Regions from separate parts of the Homo sapiens genome. Here region 1 is linked to region 2. The links come from fine-mapping of genetic effects on gene expression. Tissue or cell type: monocytes. Region 2 holds a variant in brackets; the other region holds the start of a gene. All regions are shown on one strand. Distances are from middle to middle.

What was found. PIP is the estimated chance that this variant, and not a neighbour inherited with it, causes the effect.
Region 1: NFKB1 starts here. The variant in region 2 is fine-mapped to the expression of NFKB1 in monocytes (Quach 2016, PIP 0.95).

Annotation. Positions count from the first base shown.
Region 1 is chr4:102,497,850-102,505,959 of GRCh38, reverse strand. It overlaps NFKB1 (nuclear factor kappa B subunit 1), which reads right to left and starts at 4,601. Exons shown (of 24, transcript NM_003998.4): 1 at 4,172-4,601. NFKB1-AS1 (NFKB1 antisense RNA 1) reads left to right here and starts at 3,474. Exons shown (of 5, transcript NR_136202.1): 1 at 3,474-3,521. RefSeq lists an enhancer at 3,922-3,971 and silencers at 4,082-4,651, 4,662-4,921.
Region 2 is chr4:103,138,217-103,146,326 of GRCh38, reverse strand. It overlaps CENPE (centromere protein E), which reads left to right. Exons shown (of 49, transcript NM_001813.3): 30 at 220-498; 31 at 646-804; 32 at 993-1,277; 33 at 1,709-1,996; 34 at 2,921-3,079; 35 at 4,419-4,577; 36 at 5,223-5,513; 37 at 5,913-6,071; 38 at 6,248-6,538; 39 at 7,878-7,976. Among named protein-coding and RNA genes, the nearest start is that of BDH2, 42 kb to the right of the region's middle. The variant G/TG (reference allele first, on the strand shown) is at 3,324.

The sequences.
Region 1 (8,110 bases), 640 kb after region 2:
GTGCTCCTTTCTTTCCAGAAGGCAAAGCAAAATAATGTAATTTTTGTTCCTTATAGAAGATGGCTGTCCATTTAAAAAAAAATTTTGCAACAACTTCATATCATTCATTCATTTAACAGTTAATGATTGCTTACTATGTACCAACAAGTACAATGCTAAGCATCAGATATTTCTTTCGTCAGTATTGATTAGATATTATTTATTTTTAGTTAAACTAGAGTATTTGATTCTCTCAAACAGCTTTTTCTTTATTTCATTTTTTATAATTTTGGCTATTTTAAAGAATAAATTCTTTTCTAAAGCTTAAGCAGTCAAAATTTGTCACAGTTTAAACTAATAGGATCCATAGATGAACTCAAGTCTGTTGATATCTACTGAAGGCATGGGTCAAAATAAAAGCTATTTTAAGGTTTCTGGATTAATGGTGAAAGATGAATGAAAAATAATAAGGCAATTTGTAATGGATAATTAAACCAAATATATCATTATTCTAATTTCAAAAACAGGCAATAAATTAAAGCAGATGAAATTTGTATTACTGATAATTAATTCTGTTTGTTACTACAGAAAATATGACACAATAAAAATTGTTTTCTTTTTAAAATGTAAAATGCACTATTTTTATTATTAGTACTCTAAATTAAACAAATATTTTCATCCATAATCTATCTTCTGAGATTTCTATAATCTTTAACAAATCACATCTTATGTGACTCTTATTCTGTACAGAACTGTCAGGCTTTAAATTATTTGAGGTGTAGCAATGCAATTTGCACAACTTATTTTCTAAACTGTTGGCTGATCTTCAAGGCCAGGTCAACAACCTCCGGAAATGTAAAAGACAGTATATTAATTTGCACCCAGGAACAACCCCTAATACAGCAGAGACCAAAGGTATGAAGCAATTTCATCATCATTAAAAGAATGTTACTACTTTTTTCTCTTTTTTTCTTCTAAAAGTGAGGCACTGGATACTAATTAATGAAATACTACAAAGATAAAAGGCTTGGTTATGTTACCAGAACTATTAACTGTCCAAATTATGTGGTTTCAAATATTAATCTTTTTTGATTAAAAAAATTCACAGTCAAGGAGCCAAACTGACTTGCAGGACTATGCCAAAACGTTCAAACCTTTCTCCCTGAGGCTGAGTACCTTCAGTTCTTCCAAACTGTCTGTCTCCAAAGTAGTGACAAAATTCAAAGAGAGATCATATGCTCTTGATGGTTTATTGCTGACCTCTAAGAACACTACAAGTGAGTTCAGTATTTATGGGAGGTGCAAGAGTGCAAATGAGAACTAATTCCCAAAAAGCAGAGTAAATTGCTCCAGTATGGTCTACTGTTTACCAAGACGTAGTCATCAATTAATGCTGATTAGACACAAATGTAGATGTAGGAGCAGAACATCTTAACATATCCTCTAGCACTAACTTCTATTTTTCCTTCTCCTTCTCTTCTAATATAACAATCCCACTACTGTAGACAATTCACCTTGTAAACAGAAAACCAACAGACCAACCGAATAAAACAAACTTCCTACTAAAAGTAAGAAAATTAATGAGAAATTTTGCATAGACATCCATTCCTGTTAATGTGATTTCTGATCAATCTGTGGACCAGAAGAGCATAATCTGAGAATTTACTCTATTGGTTATACAACAGTACTGTGCATTTCCAGATACACTTCCTACTGCAGTCAATTCTATACTCAGAATAGCACATCTACTAAGACCCGAAGATGCAAAAGATGACATTTTGAGTACTTCATCAAAAATCCATACAGCAACTCAGATACAATTATTTTACTGTTTGAAAATATCGACTACTTTTCTTACTTCTCCCAAGTTCAAACCAATTGAAGGTTATGAAGTAACCACTTCCCCCCAGAAGCCAGAACTTTCACCTCTTCTGAACAGAGAAATACCTCTCATAAATTAGGTAAAAATAAGGTCTTGCTGATGGAATGATAGTCCAACATTCATGTAGCTGCCAATTCCCTATCTAGACCTCGTATCTACCACAATGAGCAATCCCTGAAAGTCAAGGTAGTAACTTACTTAATCAATTATCTGCAAGTCTAAAAGTGTAGTTAAAACAACCTGCATAAATATTAGTTTCTCAAACTACTTCAATTTGTTTCCAGGAACAGTAACAACAGAAATGTAAGGAATATAATCACTAAATCTAAAATTCTGCCTATTTCAGATTAATTGTGCTTTAATCAACTCAATCAACACAGATCTTGTTTAAGAGGTAGAGTAAAAAGGAAGTGCAAAGATCAAAGCAATGCTTACAAAGGGGAAGGACTATTTTTGTATGTATACCCCCAGTATTTACTATCTGGGTTTGAAAAACACGGGCATTTACTCAGCACAAGTGAGTGCCAATGCCTAACATAAGAATGAAATTTCAGCAAAAAGATAATAGATTTTCACATCACCACCAACCCCTAAAAGGATTATACTACCTTCTTTAAAAAGTCTCAAAGAGTTTAGAAGTGGTTTGCTTTTCACTGCAAGCAGCTTTTCGGTTCCAGTATTAAATGTACATATAACGTGTGTTCCTTTGTGTTCAAGTTTGTCCAGTAGGCTGCAGCCCAGGAAGACATTTTATCTAAACAAGCAGGGGAGGGCATTTAGGAATTGCAGGTGTATCAATATGGATGAATAATCTCAGATTCCAAGTCTCCATTAATCGTACATGTTCTTTCCATTTTAGCAATTCAATTAAATCATGAATGTAAAATTCTACAGGAAACAAATCTTTTTATTTCCTGTCTTCCCAAGTTTATAAACTCAAAAAAGTACATTGCTTCAAATTTAAATACATACATTTAAATACATAATTCCTATAGTGCCTCAAACAGTAAAAGGATTCATCTCTAGAAAGCACAATATTAAAATCAGAAAAACAACATACTTTAGTTTTAAGTTTCCCTTTTAAAGTTTTAACAAACACGAATGCAGTTTAAACTGCTTGACAATATTCAGTTGTGGGATTCTGCTAGAAAAAAATTATTGAATATCTTGACCCTAACCTTTACTATTTACTAAAAGATCACCAGTATGTAGAATATTTTGATGCCAGAGCTATTAAATGTTTTAGTAATACCATAAGCATTTTTTCAGATTATGAGCTTTATAAAAAAATCTTTGAGTTAAATATGGTTATTTCATAAACTGTAATGCTGAAAACCTCTACTTAACAAAGTCCATGAACATGTCAATCTTGATAATTAAATCCTGTATCATTAAGTCCCATTTGAGTTTCAGGATAAACCAGCAAGTCAGGGCAAACATTCCCTGGTGTCTGTTTTTAAGGACCATAGAAAAACTTGCATTTAGGATAGGCCTTGTTTTTACATTATTTTTGTTTCAGCGGTCATGCATAATGCATGGTGGCACTGTCCAAGAGTTTTACATAATCAAGTCTAAAAAGTGCTCTAAGTATCCAGGTAGGTAATTTATTTTCTCTCTCAAATGCCAGGCCCCGGAGGATCAGAATCAAGTCCTATAGCAGGTGACTATATCGTGTGTGTGTGTGTGTGTGTGTGTGTGTGTGTGTGTGCGCGCGCGCGCGCGCACGGAGGGGGGGAGGGGGGAGAGAGAGAGAGACAGAGAGCGAGCCAGGTTTCTTTTAGAAGTAGGAGAGGGATGAATAGACTCTCCTATTCAATTCTGGGGAGCTGGGGAGGGCTTTCCCAGCCAAGAGGACTGACAAGCACTTCTGCTTTCATTTCATGGAACGCCCTTAGGTGAAATCTGGTTCTGCACTGCACCAACCACCTTCCCTCTCTCCTCCGCGCCGCAGCGCACTCCAACCTTCTCACCATCCCCCAGGTGGGGCTGGGGTTGGGGATTTTAAAAGTTTGTAAGAGTTCCCCTCCGGTTCGCGTTCCCGCCCCGCGGAGGGACGTGAAGAGAAATGACCGCCGGGCGGCCGCGGCCCTTCGGCCGACTAGCCCCTGCGAGGTCCGGATGTGTCTTTCCCCGCTGTCGCTAATCCCATGTGCCTCTCAGCTACTGTCAACCTCCTCCCACGGTCTAGCCCAGCGGTTAGCGCAGGAATGAGGAAGTCCGAGTGGGGCTGGAGGGGGTGCGGAGGGCTGGGCGGCAGGACTTGGGCCACGCGTCCCCTGCCGGGCCCCCACTCGCCCGAGTTTGGCTTACCCGGGTGGCGAGTCCGCGTTCGGCCTCCTGGCGCGGGTGGGCTCTCCCTCCTAAGCGGCGCGGGCCTGCCGGCTGGAGAAGGAAGAGGCGGCGGCAGGCCGGAGCCCGGGCGGGCCCGAGTGCGGGTCGGGGCGAGCGGGAGCGCGGCGGGGCCGGGCCAGGCCAGTCAGCGCCGCGCCATGGCCGCAGCGCGGGCGGAGGGAAGCGCAGGGCGCGCGGTGGCCGGGCGGCGGCGCCGCCTTACTGGCCGGGCGGCTGCGGCCTCGGCGGCGCTGGGCTCCGGGAGCGGGGCCGGTGGCTGCGTGCAGGCCGAGGGCTGCGGCGGCTGGCGGCCCGACCGACGGGAAGGGCAGGGGAAGCTGTCAGCGCGTCGCCGGGCCGCTCCGGTGGCGAAACCTCCTCTTCCTGCCCCGGCTCGCTGGTGCACTTCTCTCTCTTTCTGTCTCGCTCACTCTCTCACTTCCTGGCTGGAAATTCCCACTGACGTCGAGAGAGCATACAGACAGACGGACACACGCGCGCACGCAGCGGGGGCGGGAGGTAGGGTCGCTGCCGGGGGTGGGGGAAGCCCGCACTTCTAGGGGCGCTGTGCGCCCCCGGCCCGGCCTTGCCGCTCGCCTCGGCTCCCGCCCCTCGGGGCCGCTTCGGGGCGCCGGGCGAGGGGCGCGCGTTAGGCGGCCTGGACGCCGCGGCCCCTGCGGGGCTCTGGCTTCCTAGCAGGGCGCTCCCGAATCCCAAGGGCTGGAGCCGGTAGGGAAGCCCCCAGGAAGCGCCTGCCGGGCCCAATCAATGGTCGGGGAACGCAGGCAGCACGGAGGCGGCGGCGGTGGCAGTGCCGCTGATAGAGTCATGCGGTCCATAGCCCCTAAGGGCAGGCCCGAGCAGCTGGAGGGTCGGCATGGATCCAAGCATGCCAGATATAAAAATAAAGCTCATCTGTATATTCCATTTAAGCGTGTCTCAGTTACATTCACATCTCTTCACAGATTAAACTACAATTTCGTTATCATAAACGACTTGTGCCCAGTAAAGTATAACCCTCTACTGGTTTTTGGTGCGGTCTTAAATCTCCTGGTTATAGAGCAGTTACTCAGAATGTTCATCTACAAGGCATTGTTAGGCCTTTATGATAATTACTGTGGATAGAATTATAGTGATGGTGGTAGCAATGGTTTTGGTTCACAGCTCATAAAATACTGATCTGGCAGAGGGGAGTTTTCTTTTTCTCTGAAGAGACCGCTACTGGCACCCACTGACAGGCCTCCCAGTGGCCACCATTCACTGGCATCTGAGCTGCTTTAGTGCTGGGCACTGTATTAGGTACAGGCTGGGGATACCTTCGGGTGGATTACCTCCCCACATAAGAAAGCTTGAGCCGAAATATATATTTTAGAGCTCATTGTTTCACTACTGGGTGGAGTGACAACTGAAAGCTTAGCTTTAAAACATCAGTAATCAGGTCCTCACCAGGCAATATTGCAGTGGCATTTAGATTGCTTATGGCATGTTCATCCTAGTCCTTTCGTGCCCACTCTCCATCCTCCTCCTCCAGTAGGTTATAAAAACCTTCTTGGTGGAGTGTTTTTCTGGAAAAAAAAAATAAACAAAAAAAACCCACACACACAAAAACCCAGCGATCCATTTGATTGCCTATGAGGTGAGTCTCCGAGGCGACCTTGGAGGCCCCAACAGTCGACCTTTAAGTGATCTCATTTAGCTCCGGGAGGCTGAGCAGCTGGAATTTAGAGGATCCATAAAGACTGAACACAATGACTTTTTAAGAAATTCTGTGAGCCGGGTGCGGTGGCTCACACCTGTAATCCCAGCACTTTGGGAGGCCAAGGCGGGTGGATCCCCTGAGGTCAGGAGTTTGAGACCAGCCTGACCAATATGGTGAAACCCCATCTCTACTAACAATACAAAAAAATTAGCCGGGCGTGGTGGCGGGCGCCTGTAATCCCAGCTACTCCAGAGGCTGAGGCAGGAGAATCGCTTGAACCCTGGAGGCAGAGGTTGCAGTGAGCCAAGATTGCGCCACTGCACTCCAGCCTGGGCGAGACAGAGCGATACTCTGAGAAAGAAAGAAAGAGAGAGGGAGGGAGAGAGGGAGGGAGGGAGGGAGGTGTGAGCATACACACTCTACTTTTCATTCTGCAAGGGGTGGCAGCCCCATTACCAAAAGATAGATAAATACAATTGTTATAAGAGTAGAGCCAGTGTGACATATTTGGGAGTAAAAAATGAAGAGCGTTAATTACTGAAAAGGATTAAATCAAACTCCAAACTCAAAATGATTCCATAAAATGAACTTAAAATTCAGGGTAGGGTGTTGAGCAGGCATATTTTCCTGGGGCTGCTGTAAAAATTTACCACCGACTGAACAGCTTACAACGGGAATTTATTCTGTCACAGTCCTGGAGCCTAAAATTCTGAACTCAAGGTGCCATTAAGGCCATGATCCCTCTGAAGGCTCTAGGGAAGAATCCTTTGCCTCCTCCTAGCTTCTGGTAGCTCCAGCAATCCTTGCCATTCTTGGCTTGGCTGCAACACTCCATTCTGTGCCTACATTGTCACATGGTCTCCTTCCCCGTGTTTCCTTTGTGTCGCTATATTCAACTCTCCCTCACCTTTCTTTTATGAAGACACCAGTCATTGGATTTAGAGCCCACCCCAATCCAGTATTACCTCATCTTAACTTGATAACATTTGCAAAGATCCTAGTTCCAAATAAACTCATGTTCACAGGTACCTGTGGTTAGGACTTGAACATATGTTTTGGGGGGATGTAATTCCATGCAGCACAGCAGGCAAAACTATAAAAGCTTTTTGGCTTGCTGATTAACCCTCCTCCATTCCTGCTTTGTTACCCAACATTTTCTCTACACTGTACAAACCTGCTTCCAGGAATATCTCTTACAAATTCATCCATCCTAAGGTGTCAGAAGGTATTTGCCATTATCAGGCTACGAAGAGGAAAAAAATGCCTCAATGTGGAATTTCAGACATCAATATTGTCTAAAAGACAAGTTATTTTGTGTTTGTCACTTGTCTTAGTTCATTTGTGTTGCTATGGCAGAATACACAAGACTAGGTAGCTTATAATGAAAAGAGGTTTATTAGGCTCACAGTCTTCAGACTGTACAAGAAGCATGGCACCAGCATATGCGTCTGGTGAGGGCCTCAGGCTGCTTCCACTCAATGGAAGGCAAAGGCGGGTGGTGTGTGCAGAGAGATCGTATGGCGAGAGAGAGGGGAGAGATGCCAAACTTTTTAGCAACCAGCTCTCATAGGAACTAATGCAGTGAGAACTCACTCATCCTCTCCTCCTTGCAGGGAATAGCATCAATCTATTTGTGAGGGATCCACCTCCATGACCGAAACATCTCCCATTAGGCCCCACCTCCAAAATTGGGGTCACATTTCAACATGAGGTTTAGAGGAGACAAATACCCAAACCATAGCATCACTAAATCATTGAAACTACACAAATTTCCCTTCTCATGAAGCTATTTTGGAAATACCAGTGTGGAGAGAATTCTGAGGTTGAGATCTGTGTAGTGTGTTCATTGGCAATGAGAACATAGGAAAAGTATGTCTTCTTTTTAATTGCCTCTGAGTAAAGGTGACACAACACTTCTGCCCACATTCCATGGCCCCACTTAGATGCAAGAGAGCAGGGAACTACAGTTCTTCTGGTTGGTTAGGAGGTTGAAATAGGTCGGCTAAGCATATGGTTAATACCTGCTATACACGTATTCACTTATTTGGTTGTCAGTCATATAAAGTGGATCACCATTATAATCCCCATATTTACAGATGAAAAGTTGAATAATTTTCCTAAGGTTTCATAATTAGTAAATAGAAGGAGAGTCAGGATTTGAACCTAACAGATTTGGCTCCAGTGTGCATGATATTAACCACCACACTAAACTATTATCC
Region 2 (8,110 bases):
TGTCTCCAGCCTCGAATAAGATGCTGACAACACAGTGAGACCTCAATTTTTAAAAAGCATTAAATGCCTGAATAATGGAAGAGTGGGAGAATGGAGAGATTGCTCTGTAAATGAGGCACTGAATCCTGCCTTAATTGTTTTAGAAAGCATCCTGATTTATTTTCCCCTAAAACACAATATCTCTGGATATCAACTGTACTGTTTTATGATTCTCTTAAGATCCAGGAGTCTCAAAGCAAACAAGAACAGTCCTTAAATATGAAAGAAAAAGACAATGAAACTACCAAAATCGTGAGTGAGATGGAGCAATTCAAACCCAAAGATTCAGCACTACTAAGGATAGAAATAGAAATGCTCGGATTGTCCAAAAGACTTCAAGAAAGTCATGATGAAATGAAATCTGTAGCTAAGGAGAAAGATGACCTACAGAGGCTGCAAGAAGTTCTTCAATCTGAAAGTGACCAGCTCAAAGAAAACATAAAAGAAATTGTAGCTAAAGTAGGTTTCATCTTTCACCATGTTTTTAAAAAATATTTTGTAACCAAATATTATTATAAACCCTAAATATTTGGAAAGGGGAGTTAATTACAACAAAATAGTTATAATGTTTCTATAAATTTATTGGAATTTCCTCTAATAATAAAGCACCTGGAAACTGAAGAGGAACTTAAAGTTGCTCATTGTTGCCTGAAAGAACAAGAGGAAACTATTAATGAGTTAAGAGTGAATCTTTCAGAGAAGGAAACTGAAATATCAACCATTCAAAAGCAGTTAGAAGCAATCAATGATAAATTACAGAACAAGGTAAATTGGGGATGAAGAAACAGTGGGAGGAAATGGGTGGGTTTGGAGTAGCTAACTGAATTATGAAGACTACTATTTGGCATGCTTAATTGTTTTGGGAAGCAACCTTTTCCTCTTAAGTTGTGTATGTGTGTGTGTGTGTTTACATATTTTTATGACTATTAACTTATTTTATAATTATGTTTAAGATCCAAGAGATTTATGAGAAAGAGGAACAATTTAATATAAAACAAATTAGTGAGGTTCAGGAAAAAGTGAATGAACTGAAACAATTCAAGGAGCATCGCAAAGCCAAGGATTCAGCACTACAAAGTATAGAAAGTAAGATGCTCGAGTTGACCAACAGACTTCAAGAAAGTCAAGAAGAAATACAAATTATGATTAAGGAAAAAGAGGAAATGAAAAGAGTACAGGAGGCCCTTCAGATAGAGAGAGACCAACTGAAAGAAAACACTAAAGAAATTGTAGCTAAAGTAAGTTCCCATCTTATTTTTTTTTTTTTTGGATACAGAAATAGTGTTAAGGTGATAATGACGGTGTTCATGTTAAGTTTTATTAATTTTCCTCTAATCATAAAGGGACCGGAAATAAAAGAGGAATCAAAAACTGCTTATATTCAACTGAGTACCAGTAAACTGTTAGTAGACAGAATATTTCAGAGAAGACAGCTCAAGTAGCAAATATTCATTGGGATTTAGGAAATTCTGATGGTGAATTACAGGAAAAAGTGGGACTTGTTAAATTGGAAAATGACATCTAATTATTGTTACTCATATCCCTTATGAAAGAAAGTACTACATACATTAGATTACAATGTAAAAATGATTGCCTTATTTTAGGAACAGTTCTTCCTTTTCCTAAAAAAATTCTGCCTATGTTGTAACTTACTTTATAATTTTCTCAGATGAAAGAATCTCAAGAAAAAGAATATCAGTTTCTTAAGATGACAGCTGTCAATGAGACTCAGGAGAAAATGTGTGAAATAGAACACTTGAAGGAGCAATTTGAGACCCAGAAGTTAAACCTGGAAAACATAGAAACGGAGAATATAAGGTTGACTCAGATACTACATGAAAACCTTGAAGAAATGAGATCTGTAACAAAAGAAAGAGATGACCTTAGGAGTGTGGAGGAGACTCTCAAAGTAGAGAGAGACCAGCTCAAGGAAAACCTTAGAGAAACTATAACTAGAGTGAGTTACCATCTCTCTACACCTCTAGTAACTATGACATTGAGTCCTAAGAGAAAAATCTGCCATAGGGTTGGTGGGAGTATAAAATTGGTCCAGGCCGGGCGCGGTGGCTCGAGCCGGTAATCCCAGCACTTTGGGAGGCCAGGGCGGGCAGATCACGAGGTCAGGAGATCAAGACCATCCTGGCTAACATGGTGAAACGCCATCTCTACTAAAAACATAAAAAATTAGGCAGGCGTGGTGGTGGGCGCCTGTAGTCCCAGCTACTTGGGAGGCTGAGACAGGAGAATGGCGTGAACCCAGGAGGCGGAGGTTGCAGTGAGCCAAGATCGCACCACTGCACTCCAGCCTGGGCGACAGAGCAAGACTCCATCTCAAAAAGTAAAATAAAATAAAAAATAATAAAATAAGATAAAATTGGTCCAATATTGAGGAAAGTTGGTGAGGGTATATTTGGAAATACCTTCCAAATTTTTCCAAAGGTTTATTCGTTGATCCACAAGTCCAGTTGTAACTATCCTCCACACATTTGCACAACTGTATAAAGATATTTGTAGGATATTCTTTGCAACAAGTTGCAATAATGAAATAACACAAACAAAAACAGGGAAAATTCTAACCATCCATTGGTAAGGGACTGGTTAAATAAGTGCAGCACATTCACGTCATGGAATTCTATGCCACAAATAAAAAATGTGGTAGAGCTATAGTGCTGATTTGAAGGGTGAAGTGTCCTGTTAGGGAACAGGGTAAGTTCAGGAATAGTGTATCTAGAATGTATTGACATCTAAAAGTAGCTTAGAGGGTGAGAACTAGGAGGCCTCAGAAGAGGGTGGAAGATTTTTACCTCCTGCCCTATACCTTTCTATAGCATGTGGATGGTACTACTCTCAATGTATTATTTTTATTTTTCTATTGATAAAGGACCTAGAAAAACAAGAGGAGCTAAAAATTGTTCACATGCATCTGAAGGAGCACCAAGAAACTATTGATAAACTAAGAGGGATTGTTTCAGAGAAAACAAATGAAATATCAAATATGCAAAAGGACTTAGAACACTCAAATGATGCCTTAAAAGCACAGGTATTTTATTTTTAAGTTATCTCAGTTACTGAGAGTTTGAATCAAACTTTTTGTGTAATGAAACAAGATATGAATTACCCTAAAATTGAAGGCAAGTGAAGACTTACTTGCCTACTCAATTTAGAAACTATCATTGATCTTTTTATATCTACTGATAATCCTAACTTATTGTATGATTATCTCAAGATCCAAGAACTTCAGGAGAAAGAACATCAACTTCTTTTTTTTTTTTTTTTTTTTTTTT[G/TG]AGACAGAGTCTCGCTCTGTCGCCTGGAGTGCAACGGCATGATCTCGGCTCACTGCAATGTCTGCCTCCCGGGTTCAAGCGATTCTCCTGCCTCAAGTCTCCCAAGTAACTAGGATTACAGATGCATGTCATCACACCCAGCTAATTTTTGTATTTTTAGTAGAGAGGAGGTTTCACCGTGTTGACCAGGGTGGTCTCGATCTCCTGACCTCATGATCCACCCGCCTCGGCCTCCCAAAGTGCTGGGATTACAGGCATGAGCCGCCAGGCCCAGCCTCAACTTCTTAAAGTAAAAAATGATCTTAGGGAAACTATGTATCAAACAGGTCAGTTAAAGAAGCAGTTAGAGGCCTGGAATGTAACTCTGGAAAGTGTAGAAACGCAGAAATTAAGATTGACTCAGAAGCTTCATGAAAACCTTCAGGATGTAAGATTTGTTACTAAGGAAAATGATGGCCTAAGAGGAGTAGAGGAAATCTTTAAAATGGAGCAAGACCAACTTAGGGAAGGCCTTAGAGAAATAGAAGCTAAAGTAAGCTCATTCCTCTCCCTGGCAATTCAATGTATTGTGTTCTTACAGCAATGAACCCTTCTTTGAACCAAGTACTACTGTTGGCAAGAATGAAATGATACAGCCTTTTAAGCAGATAATTTGGTACTGTTCTTGAAAAGTTCAAGTCTGCAATTATCATTTTCCTTACGGACTTTAGCCTACATATATACTGTTAAAGGAGTGTGTGTGTATATACAAACACAACGTATACATATGCCACAGGTTATTTATTGTAGTGATTTTAATTAAAAATCTGAAACAATCTAAATGTTCCTCAGAAGGAAACAGTAAATATGAACAATATATCGAAATACTATGCAACACTTAAAAAAAGTAATATATGTGTAATGTGTTTGCCTCTGGAAAGCAGAAGTAGAGTGTGAAGAGAGGAGGACAGGGAAGAGAAAGCCTGTACCTTAAAAACAACAGCAAAGATATAGAGTAACAGTGTTATTATTTTTACTAAGAAAATATATCACTTTATTTTTTAAAAACTAATATTAAGATATGTCACTGTTTTTAAAATTTCTCTAATGGTAAAGGATCTGAAAATACAAGAGGAACTAAGAATTGCTCACATGCATCTGAAAGAGCAGCAGGAAACTATTGACAAACTCAGAGGAATTGTTTCTGAGAAGACAGATAAACTATCAAATATGCAAAAAGATTTAGAAAATTCAAATGCTAAATTACAAGAAAAGGTATTTTTATGGGGGGATTGTTTGATTGGATATCTAATTTGTTTGTGCCTAAAATTGTTGGGGATATAAAATGGTTCAACCACACTGGAAAACACCTTGGCAGTATTTACTAATGCTGGATGTAGCCTGCCTGAGGCCCAACATTTCCACTTCTTGGGTATGTACATAAGAGAAAAGAGTACGTACATACTTCTATAAAAAGACACAAGAATGTTTATAGCAGCCTTATTCAAAATAACAAAAAACTGAAAACTCAAATGTCTATCAGCAGGAAAATGGATACATACATTGTGATATATAGGTTCAAAAGCAGGCAAAACTGAACCAGGATGATAAAGGTCAGAATAGTGGCTGTCTCTAGGAAGGAGCACACAGAAACTTTATGAAGTGCTAGAAATATTCTCTGTTTTAATCTGGGTTGTAGTTTCATAGATTTACACCTGTGTCAAGAATAATTAAGTTATACATTGAAGATGAGCATGCTTTATATATATTATACCTCAAAAGAAAGTAAAATTCTGTGTGGAATTGTGCAGGATATCAGTGAGAGTAACATGGGTAGACAGTTGTCTTAATCAATTTAGAAACTATTATTTATCTGTCCCTAAAAAGCCACCTAACATATTATTTTATGATTATCTTAAGATTCAAGAACTTAAGGCAAATGAACATCAACTTATTACGTTAAAAAAAGATGTCAATGAGACACAGAAAAAAGTGTCTGAAATGGAGCAACTAAAGAAACAAATAAAAGACCAAAGCTTAACTCTGAGTAAATTAGAAATAGAGAATTTAAATTTGGCTCAGAAACTTCATGAAAACCTTGAAGAAATGAAATCTGTAATGAAAGAAAGAGATAATCTAAGAAGAGTAGAGGAGACACTCAAACTGGAGAGAGACCAACTCAAGGAAAGCCTGCAAGAAACCAAAGCTAGAGTGAGTTGTGTTCTCTCTTTACCCTACCATTATATTCACATATTTGGGCAAAAATACAGTGTTCACTGCAGCGTTGTGTCTGGTGACTAAAACCTAGAAATAATCTAAGTGTCCACCAATAATAAGGCACTATCTGTATAATGGAAAACTAAGCATAAGAATGGGGTATTCTTTTTGTGATATTGATTTAGAAAGATGTCCAAGTGGTATGAAAGGAGAAGGCTATGGGTGAGGCTACCAGCAGAAAATTTTACTTTACTCTTCTAATTTAGGAGGTTGTATAATGGTTGTTTTTAACTGTGAGTGTATAATTTTTAAGATTTTGTTTAAACTCAATCATTAAGTAAAGGTAACGTGCCTTTATATCATTACATTTCTTGATTTCTTCTAACCATAAAGGATCTGGAAATACAACAGGAACTAAAAACTGCTCGTATGCTATCAAAAGAACACAAAGAAACTGTTGATAAACTTAGAGAAAAAATTTCAGAAAAGACAATTCAAATTTCAGACATTCAAAAGGATTTAGATAAATCAAAAGATGAATTACAGAAAAAGGTATGTGTTGTTTTGTTCTTCTTTTGGAAGTAACTGTGCCCAAAATTATTTGTGGAATTAAAAAGATATAGATACAGATATGTAGATAGATATGTGCATATAGAACACAAGTAGACACTATTTGCCTTCCTTGAAGAAACTGCTTACATTCTAACTTGTTTTACAATTATCTCAAGATCCAAGAACTTCAGAAAAAAGAACTTCAACTGCTTAGAGTGAAAGAAGATGTCAATATGAGTCATAAAAAAATTAATGAAATGGAACAGTTGAAGAAGCAATTTGAGGCCCAAAACTTATCTATGCAAAGTGTGAGAATGGATAACTTCCAGTTGACTAAGAAACTTCATGAAAGCCTTGAAGAAATAAGAATTGTAGCTAAAGAAAGAGATGAGCTAAGGAGGATAAAAGAATCTCTCAAAATGGAAAGGGACCAATTCATAGCAACCTTAAGGGAAATGATAGCTAGAGTGAGTTCAGAGTCTTCCTTTGTGTAGTAACTATTAATAAGAATTAAGCTTTTTTGAAAAGAATTACAATGTTTTTATTTCTTTCTCTGGAAATTCCTATGAACAGTAAAGGACAGTGGGAAATGGTTACTCTAATTTTTACACAATAGAAAACAGTTTTAAAAGAAGCAAAAATATTTTCAGAAAATAACATTTAATTCTTTATTTTTATAAACTGTGTTAAAGCAGTCTATTTCCCTTAATATAACATTTTAAAGTTTTTTTTAATCAAGAGATAGCATTATTCTAAATGGAGAAATATTTGAAGGATTAGATTTGTAAGAGAGCAAATATTCCCATTTCTCTACCTATACATGCTGGAGTTCTAGAGTTGGGCTCTTATTGGTGAAGTTAAAAGGAAAAAAGGGAAGATAAATATAAAAATTAAGTTCCTCTGGTATGACTATTTATAGATATTCAGAATCATATATCTTAAAATATCTAATTAAATCCTCTTTTTGAAAGTAACAGAGTTCAGACAAGTTTATTAAAATCTGTAAAAATCTTTTTTATTCTCATATTTCTTTATGTGGGCCTGAACTAAATTTATAGAGAGATTTAATTCATTCATCAAATATTCTTCTAGGTACTGTAGTGAACAAGATAAGTGGGAGAAAATGTTTTTGTTTCACTTTATACTTTTTAATCAGAAATGCAAAATGTACACAGGATATGAACTTTTCCAAGGTGCTGGGAAGAATATATGACTAGGGTTTGAAACACCATAGACAGTACAGGTGGTTTTGCCAGTATATTTGGTTGGCGCCAATAAAGTGCATTAGGATAAAAGCAAGTGCCACTGTTAAAACTACAAGTGAATAATGCAGAGATTTGGAAGAGTAGGAATCAGAAATTAAAATCTAATTTATTTGTTTTCCTGGTTGTTTATTTATTTATTTATTTATTTTTATAGAGACAGGGTCTCACTATGTTGCTGAGGCTGGTTTTGAGCTCCTGAGCTCAAGTGATCCTCCTGCCTCGATCTCCTAAAGTGCTAGGATTACAGGCGTGAGCTACCATGCCTGGCCCTAAAACCTAATTTGTAGCTATGAAAAACAAATCCTGTCTCCAAAAATTAGATGATTTTTCTACTTTTTTACCAATGAGTTAAGGTCACTCCCTATAAAACTTACTGATACTATTATTCATTTTCTGATCATTTTAACATTGCTTTTGAGTGACAAGTATAATATTTAATTCCATTATTGAAATGTCATGTAATTTAGAAGTGTGCGATTAGACATTATATGTGAATATAGTCATGACAAAAGCCCTGTTTATTTTCTTTTTACCAAAGCAGGACCGACAGAACCACCAAGTAAAACCTGAAAAAAGGTTACTAAGTGATGGACAACAGCACCTTACGGAAAGCCTGAGAGAAAAGTGCTCTAGAATAAAAGTAAGTACCCCCTGTTAAAACTACAAATGATTATTGGTTGTCTTCCAAAGGCTTACCGAAACCTGAAGTGGGATTGAAGGAACCTCTGGAATAAATAGATAGTGCTCAGTATTTTTCTAAACATTGTAATCTAG